Regions from separate parts of the Homo sapiens genome. Here region 1 is linked to region 2. Evidence: fine-mapped expression QTL. A gene starts in region 2. The other region holds a variant in brackets. All regions are shown on one strand. Distances are between the middles of the regions. Region 1 overlaps GRB10 (growth factor receptor bound protein 10). Region 2 holds the start of GRB10 (growth factor receptor bound protein 10).

Region 1 (4,383 bases), 58 kb before region 2:
TCCTCAGAAGCTGCCCTCAATGTCCTCCTTGGGTAGGGTTATTTTTAATCCCATTTCACCCACCTTAGGTAAAGATAGCGCTCTCAGGATTAAGTTGTTTCTCTAGATGCCCTGGCACTCACCCCTCATACTGCACAAGCTACAAAGGCCACATTTACGCCTTAGAAAGCTGAAAAATCCATATAAGTACCCTGCAAATGCCAAGAACCTGACCTCAAAGACCAATTTAATTGGAATTAACACCTTCACAATGTCGAAAAATAAAATACATTTATATAAAATTTACTTTTCTTTTAGTGAAGTTCTGAAGGGACAAGTAAAGCAAAATATAACCTTATAGCTATTTTTTCACAATACCAAGTAGCTTTTTTTTCTTTAAAAAAAGAGAAAAGTTGCAGTGAAGCAATGATGTCCTTGGCAGTGAAGGACTCAAATTCCAACTCTGTGTCCACAGACAGAGGGGTCAGGTGTTTCCTTATTTAGAGTCATTAAACAACAGGTACAATTCTCCTTCCTCTATTACTTGGGTACATCCTTTAAGCCCCGGCTATGTCTTACACACTTCTGTATTCCCAGAATGGGCAACCACAAAGAAACTGCCAATCATTTCCTCATTGTCCAAAGAACGAAATGTTCTAATGTTGTTTGGTCCCATCTTACAAATTAGCTGGGTTTCAGCTGAGGTCTGGAAATGAAGGATGAACCCCTCAGCCAGTACCCCAGAGCCTGCTAAACCAGAGTCTGGGGGCAAAGGAAGACGATGAAGGGTTTTTAGCGATCCAGCCCCTTGGATCCCAGGAGCAAAGGCCCTGTTCAGGGTTCCAGCGAAGTGCCCCTGGTCAACTGGGATTTCCTAAGGCCCCACTAGTTGGGTGGTCCCTGGAGGCTCTCATTTCATAACAGTGCAGGTATAACTGTCAGCCTCACACGCCTGAAGCGGTACTGGGATTCAAACCTGGGGCCTGCATGCCTCCTGGGCTGGCTCACCTCCCGCTGGCCACATGACCCTCCAAAACGGTGTAGACTCTTGATGGAGAAAAGACTAGAACAGCTGCTCAAGGCAAACAGACATAGGAAGGTGGGAGGTAGGTCACACTGAGAGCTACAGAGGGACCCACAGGCACCCTCCAACCTTCACGCCCTAGTGCAGTGGCAAGGAGCTGGTTAAGGACGGTTAGCAAAAGCACAGCGGAGTCACATCAGGCCTATAGGGAAGAGTGGACAACACAGTGGGAGGGCACAGATGCTGTCCCCCATGATCCGCCACTGGCTGGAGGCAGTGGACTCGCACGTTCCAGCAGCGCCTGAGGAAATCTCACCATGCACAAATGACACACCAAGGCCACAATGGGTCATAAACGCAAAGCTTCAACTTTGCAAACTGGAGCTGCCAAGGACAGAAAAACCACAGGCATGACTGTGATATCCTGAGATAGCCAAGACTAGTGCTTCAGGAGCCACCTGCGGGGAAGAAGCAGTTTTTGCTGTCCCTGTCAACCTGTCAAGCACGGATACTTCACAACTCACATAGCAATGAATTGCCAGAAAGTAAAATAAAACAAAAATACGATACACACCCACATTTTTATTCTTAAGTTCAACATTCAAATTGCTATAAAATCTCTAAACACATTTTCTCAATGTCTCTACTTATCATGAACTGGAAATAAACACGACCTGGGACACAGCAGTGGGTGCATGAAGAGACCTTCCTTCAAAAAAGTCAACATTGTGCTACAATGAGGGATGGGAGGATGGGTCCTGAAGGGAGAGCGTGAGCCGCCCAGCTCTGAGCTGGTCAGTCTCATCTGAAGTGTTGATTAGTTCTGGTCCTTCCCCTTGAAGAGGGCTAGGCAAGACAGGAGAAAGGAAACAGGAAAAAGTGCCACAAA[C/T]CCCGACAAAGGAAGGATGCCTGAAGGAGCTGGGGGCTGGCTGGGTAATGACACATAACTTCAAACGCAGAGAGACGGAAGTGATTTGCTCTGCGTTACTGACAAGGCCAGAAGGGAGCACAGTCAATGTTACAGGAGGCCCATCTTCTGACCACAGATAAACAGCCTGTCCCTGAGGGTCATGAGTTCCCTTCCCTTTGGTAATCAAGTAATATGACTCTGTGCAAAGAAAACAGTTGAATCAAGGATTCATGCTCCAACCAGGTACGCCATGATGCCTTTCCAAGTCTGCGTGCGCTTGATACTGCCATCTCTCCTGGAAAAACACTCCCGGCAAGGTAGCTGTGCCTGCTGCCTGCTCTGCTGGTTACCTGCCTGCTGCCTGCCCTACCTGCTGTAATGGCGACTGATATGGTTTGCATTTGTATCCCCGCCCAAAATCTCATGTCCATCCCCAAGGTTGGAGGAGGAGCCTGGTGGTAGGTGACGGGATCACAGGGGCAGATGTCCCCCTTGCTATTCTCATGACAGTAAGTTGCCACGAGACCTGGTTGTTGGAAAGTGTGTAGCACCTCCCCTTTTGTGCTCTTTTCCTCCTGCTCCAGCCACGTAAGACTTGCCAGCTTCCCCTTTGCTTCTGCCATGATTTTAAGTTTCCTGAGGCCTTCCAGCCATGCTTCCTGTACAGGCTGCGGAACTATGAGTCAATTAAACCTCATTTCTTTATAAATTACCCAGTCCCAGGCAGTTCTTTATAAGCGGTGTGAGTGTGGACGAATACAGTGACACACACACAGCAGGTAAGTTTTGGTTTTTGTAGGTCTAGTAGAAACTTTGACACTTTACAACAGAAAAGGCAACCATCTGGTCTCATAAGTAAAACAAAAACAAAGACTTTGATAAGTGATTTCACAGTAGCTTCTGGGCAGATAGATGGCAAAGGGAAAGTTGATTACTAACATTGAACTTTCATGGGATGGAAAATTAAAAGAACACAAATATTTCTGTGGGGATTTAACCCCCATGATAAGTAGGAGGAAAACAGAAGTGGGATATAGGTATCCCTGATTAGATATGTCCTTCTAAAAGGCAGTGCAAAGTCATAGACCAATATTGTGTTCTGCTCCTCCACTGCTTATGAAATCTTATGAAAAAGATAATCAACTCTAGCACCCCCAATCAAATAGATATCTGCACAGCCAAGCACACGGTGCCAAGGAAAAACCAGACAGTGGAATGGTTAAGGACATAGGCTTCAGGCTTGACCCCGTACGCCTGATCCCTGATCTATCCCATTACAAGCTGTGTGACCTTGGGCAACTTACCAATATCTGCAAGCCCTGGTTTCCTGGAAAAAAGAAATAGAAAAAATAACACATCCAGAATATTTGCCACAGTACCAGAGAGAGGATAAAAATAACACAGGCTGGGTGCAGTGGCTCACCCCTATCTATAATCCCAGACCTTTGGGAGGCAGAGATGGGCAGACTACTTGAGACCAGAAGTTCAAGACCAGCCTGGCCAACATGGCGAAACCCCATCTCTGCTAAAAATACAAAAATTAGCCAGGTGTGATGGTGCATGCCTATAATTCCAGGTACTCGGGAGGCTGAGGCAGGACAATCGCTTGAACCCGGGAGGTGGGGGTTGCAGTGAGCTGAGATTGGGCCACTGCATTCCAGCCTAGGTGACAGAGTGAGACTCTGTCTCAAAAAAAACAAAAAACAAAAATAATACATAGAAAATATGTGATAAATATAGTTGTTTATATTATTCAAAAAAAATCAGACTTTAAGCCCATACTTGAGGATGATGATGTTTGAGAAGATTTAGGCATTAAAAAGAAAAGCACTGAGAATAAATATATACATATTTATGTATTTTTATTTCCATTTATTTACTTATCTGTCATATTTCATTGATTTTAAGACATGCCCCACTCCCCATTTTAACATTTTAAAAATGCAAACACCTTACGATCAGCACACATGACACATTTAGGGACAATACATAATAATCTTTATTTCAACTGAAAAGCTGTTGTTAAAACTGACTTATGGCATTTCATGATCAAAGAAATTCAATAAGTCCAAAATTGCAGGATACAAATTCTATGTTTTATTATAATAATTCTGAGGAGGAGATTTTGGCATTTGGACAAAAACTTGTTCTCCTCAGTCTCACCAACATTAAACATAAACACACTTCACAGAGACGAATGTACCTCTGTTACTCAGTAGGAGAGATGGTCTTTTTCTGCTTTGATAATCTCATCTGCAAAGGGGAGAACATGAAGGTCCCCACCGCGTAGCATTGGCAGGAGAGAAAATCCAAGTAAAGTCCTCAGCATGATGACCAGCATATAGTAAAAACCTCAGTTTTCTCATTTATAAAATGGGTATCATGAAGGTACCCAATTCACAGAGTCGGTGGAAGGCTGAAGACAAGGGAAGTAAACAGGAAGAGCTTAATCTTTTCCCCACTGCCAGCC
Region 2 (4,383 bases):
AGTAACTATTATCCCTGATTCACAGGTCCAGGTACAACGGCAGGTAGCACAAGATGGGGAGGGGACTGAACCACACTGCACTCACACCCCACCCTACAATTAAAAACCGTCCTTCAGCGCGTGGCTGCCGAGCACCTCAAACTGAAACAAGTGTTCTTTACCACCTTTCTCTGGAGTGACAGAGAGAAAGAAAATCCCAGTAAGCCCTTCTGGCCCTGCCCACCACCTCCCCTGTTCCCACCCAGGCCAAAGGGGGAATGCGTGGGCCCTGCTCCCACCCCCGATGCTGACATCAAAGGAGCAGAGACACGCAGGAGACTCCAGGCAGCACCCGAGGCCCTGGCCGCCAGCACGTCATAATCCCTGCAGTCGCTGCCTTTCAGACTTAAAAAGAACAATGAGGAAAGACACCCACGCTTCCCCTCACTGGGCTAGGAAGGAGAGCTTTGCGGGTTTAGACTGCAGTCTCCCCCGCCCATAGCCACCTGTGTGCCGGCTCCGCAGACGAGGTCCCCCCAGCACCCTGGCAGGGACTGTACCATCAACAGACAAATGGCAGCCGACCAAGGAGGCGACTGGCGTGTGGAACAGGTGATCCGATTGTTTTTCTAAAGAGCAAGGGCTAGGACGTCCTACGTGTTCATATGCACAATTTTTTGAACTCCATCAAGAACACGAACCCCATGCCCACATCTTCACTGCTCAATTCACATTGTCTGATATGCACCTTCCAGGGAGAAAGAGGTTTTCATGGAGAAAGAGGCAACGTTGACTATACGTGTTTACTCAAAGCTTTTTTATACCGGACTATATGCCATCCAGGTTTAAGAGAATTCCAGGCAGGCTCTAGCATTATGTTTTTCACAGAAAAAGCCGGTGCAGTAGCCCGGATGCCCAGATCCACTCATTTCCCAAACCGGTTCCCACACCCGCTGCCCACCACCTGGCGAGGAAGGAGCGGGCGAGGTTCGCTCGAATCGTCGTCACGGGTTTCCGTGGGTACAGTTATTACTCGTTACATAATATTAAACAATTAAGATTAAAAATGGTTACATAATACTGTCCTATGGCTGGCGGCAACGAAGCTCGGGATCTCGGACTGCAGCGAGCCCGCGGCAGGCGGGCAGGGGGCCGCGCGGCAAGACCTCCCCGCCTCCCTCCCGGGCCCTGTCCGCCGCGGCCGGGGCCTCTGCAGCCTGCGCAGGCCGATCCGCCCGCCGCCCCGGCTCGCGCCCACCGCCCACCGCCCACCGCCCAGCGCCCGCGGCGGAGCCCACCTGAGTACCTGGAGAGCGGGCGGCAGCACTGGCCGCACGGGGTCGCTGCGTGTGCGCCGCCGGCCCGGGTAGGGCTTCGGGGCCCGGCCCCCGCAGTGCCCGGCGCGTGGACAGCGCTCCGCATGGACAGCGCTCGGAGCCGGGCCGGGCTGGTCCTCCACGGCTCCGCCCCGGCCAGGGGCCTGCGGCGCAGAAAACCGACCCGGGGCCTCGGGGCCACCGCGCGCCAGGCGAACGCGCTAGCACGAAAAGCGGGCCAACGCCGCCTCTGGGGACGCCATCCGGGCGAGGGTGGGATGCCGCGCCACCGCCCGAGCGTGCCCGGGGGCTCCCAGCGCCATCACCACGCAGGTGCCCGGGGGCCCCTCCGCGGAGCCGGCTGCCGCCCGGCTGCAATACTCAGCCTCCGAGGGACTGGGCGCTCCTGAGGAGCGGGAGGACGACGGAGCAGCGCCCGGTCCTGGAGCACAACAGGAATCCCAGGACCAAACCCATGTGACGCGGCCACGCCCCAACGCCCGGCGGGGGCCCTCTGCTGCCCAATCCCCGGATCCCTGGTTCTCATGGCAACCCTGAAGAACCCCTTGTTCCCTCCACTGCCTCCTCTCCTCCCCCACAGCCCCCCCGCCTGATGGGCAAGGACGCGCACACTGGCCACTCTGACGATGCCGAAAGCCCTCCATGTCTACCCGCTACGCCGCATTCGCAGACAGGCGGGGGACATCGCGGCCGCGGCAAGCTAGAGATGCCGCCTGCTCGAGCAACCTTCCACCTGCAGGGCCGGCCAGTTCTACTCTTCCAGGATCACTCTCGTCTCACCCTTCTCCCCAAAATGTCAGAGCAAGAACCAGGAAGGGAGAGGCTCTTTCTGGAAGCCACAGGCATAACGTTACTGAACAACGAGGACAAAGTAGGGTCCCATTTAAACTGAGAGTCAGCGAGGGAAAGAACAGATCCTATACATACCAAGCATCTGCTATGTGCTAGTCACTTCACACACACACACACCCCACACACACCTCACACACACACCACACACATCCCACCCACCCACTCACATACATACACACCACACACATACATACACACCACACACACACATACACCACACACACACATCACACATACTCCCCCACCCCCGCACACACATACACCACAGACATACACACGAGCCTGCAATGATGGAAGCAAAACAGAACGTTTGGAGATATTCACTGCCGTTTACAAGGCCACAGTAAGCAGTAAGCAGATTTTCTACTCCCCTCTAGCAGAGAACATGGTAGGAAAAGCTAGACATTGTAGACAGCAGTAAGAACCTAACAGTCAACAGTGGACAATGGATTCTGAAACTGAGATCCTATACTGCATTCACACACGTTAAGGGGCAGGGCGCTGGGAAAACCCCATCTCAGTCTGGGGTTCAAAGAGTGGAAAAGCTACCCTAGTCCAACTGCTCGGAGGCCAGGTCAGGCCCCTGAAGGTCACTGGAGGAGGAGGCTGGAAAAAGTGCAGATATGCACTCCAAAAGGAGAGGTTCCACGGTGGTCATGACCACAAAATTCCAATATGTTTAAGTCGATCAAACAAAAGCAGAGTTAAGGCTGGTTCTGAAAGCAGCCAAGAGCAGTTTTCAACACAACACAAAGGGTAACACAAGGCTTTCTTTTCTCACAGTCCGGGCTGACCACATATGGCCTGGCTACTGCAAGAAACATTGAAGGTGTTAGCGCTTTTGACTCTAACTGCGCACCCCTCAGAGAAGATGTCACATAGTGAACATCGCAAGGCACAGAATGGGAAATGGAAGCACAGAATCAAACCCTGAGATTCGGGGAGAAACCAAAGTGTGGAGAAATTATGTAACTTATCCAAAGTCCAGAGCAGGTTACTGACTGGGAGAACTTGGCTTTCCTTCCAGACTCCAGATATGAGACTTTTCTGCGGTCTGACACAGTGGCTTCTTCCACCTCTGCAGTCAACCCCACAAAGGTGGCTCGAGTGTTCCTCTGCCTCCCTGCCCAGCAGCTCCCAGCCTGGATGGTGAACTCCTTTGCCTGAACATCCCACGCACCCTGCCATCTCCTGGGCTAGAACAACAGGTTGTGCAGGACAGAGGGCTTCCCTGCCACACTCCCCTCTATTACAAAATGCCAGAGGTCCCAGTTCGAAGCAGCTGTTCCTGGATGTGGGAAGAGCAAGAGAGAAATGATCTAATGATGGACAAGGAATCTTGAAAAGCCAGACCTTCACTGAATGGCTGACAGGACACACATTTTGCTTTACTAGAACAAGAACAGAATCTTTGAAAAGGCATAAAAGCCAGTGGTCAAGAAGTAACTGACAGCAAAGGCAAAAGAGATGAAGGCTAAGCTGGAAAGTGGAGATGAAGCCTGATGATATACTCAGTGGAAGCCCAGAAAGTCTCAGGAATGAGAACTACCATTCACCTCTGGAAATGGGAAACGTAGAGTCCAAAACAAGAAGATTAATCGGAAGTGTCAGGAATAGCTGGGCCCCATTTCATCCCGGGTCCTCTCCCCAGCTCCATCAGCTAGGTGACTTCTTTTCTGGAAGCAGGGACACAGGTCTCTGGACCAGGATCAGCAGACACAGCCATGCCTTTAGTCCCAGAAAGATTTGGTGGATCACATGCTAGCTGCCATATGAATCCCACCACCATCCCCAGCAGCTCCTGGAGCAGCACCTCCAACAGAACTGAAAGAGGCTCCTGCAGAGCTGAGAAGAGACCCAAAAGCATGAGCCCCACAACAAGCAACCAGGCGTCCATCCACAGAGGCCACAGTTAAATGCTCACTCACACAGGGCTCCTGTCAGCTTCTGAGCAATGTCCTTTTGAAAGTGGGAAGACCCCAGACAGCTAAGCGAAGCCTCTAAGGTGAAAGATGTGGCCAAATTGCATGGGACAAACACTTCCTATGCCTCACCTCCCTGGGCCCTGTCCACAGCTCTATTGAGCCGCATCTGATGGGACCCCTATGTCCTGCAGCACAGCCTCCTCCTACCAGGGCTCTGAAGAGCCTGTACACCCAGCACCTGCAGGGATGTAGCCCAGATGCAACCCTGGCCCATGGTGACGGGCACTGAC

Evidence for each region. PIP is the estimated chance that this variant, and not a neighbour inherited with it, causes the effect.
Region 1: its variant is the best candidate, but not a certain one, in a credible set for the expression of GRB10 in whole blood (TOPMed, PIP 0.50).

The regions. Positions count from the first base shown.
Region 1 is chr7:50,722,796-50,727,178 of GRCh38, forward strand. The region is part of intron 4 of GRB10 (growth factor receptor bound protein 10); the gene reads right to left. Among named protein-coding and RNA genes, the nearest start is that of GRB10, 58 kb to the right of the region's middle. RefSeq lists an enhancer at 3,544-3,713. The variant C/T (reference allele first, on the strand shown) is at 1,893.
Region 2 is chr7:50,781,139-50,785,521 of GRCh38, forward strand. It overlaps GRB10 (growth factor receptor bound protein 10), which reads right to left and starts at 1,758. Exons shown (of 19, transcript NM_001350814.2): 1 at 1,286-1,758.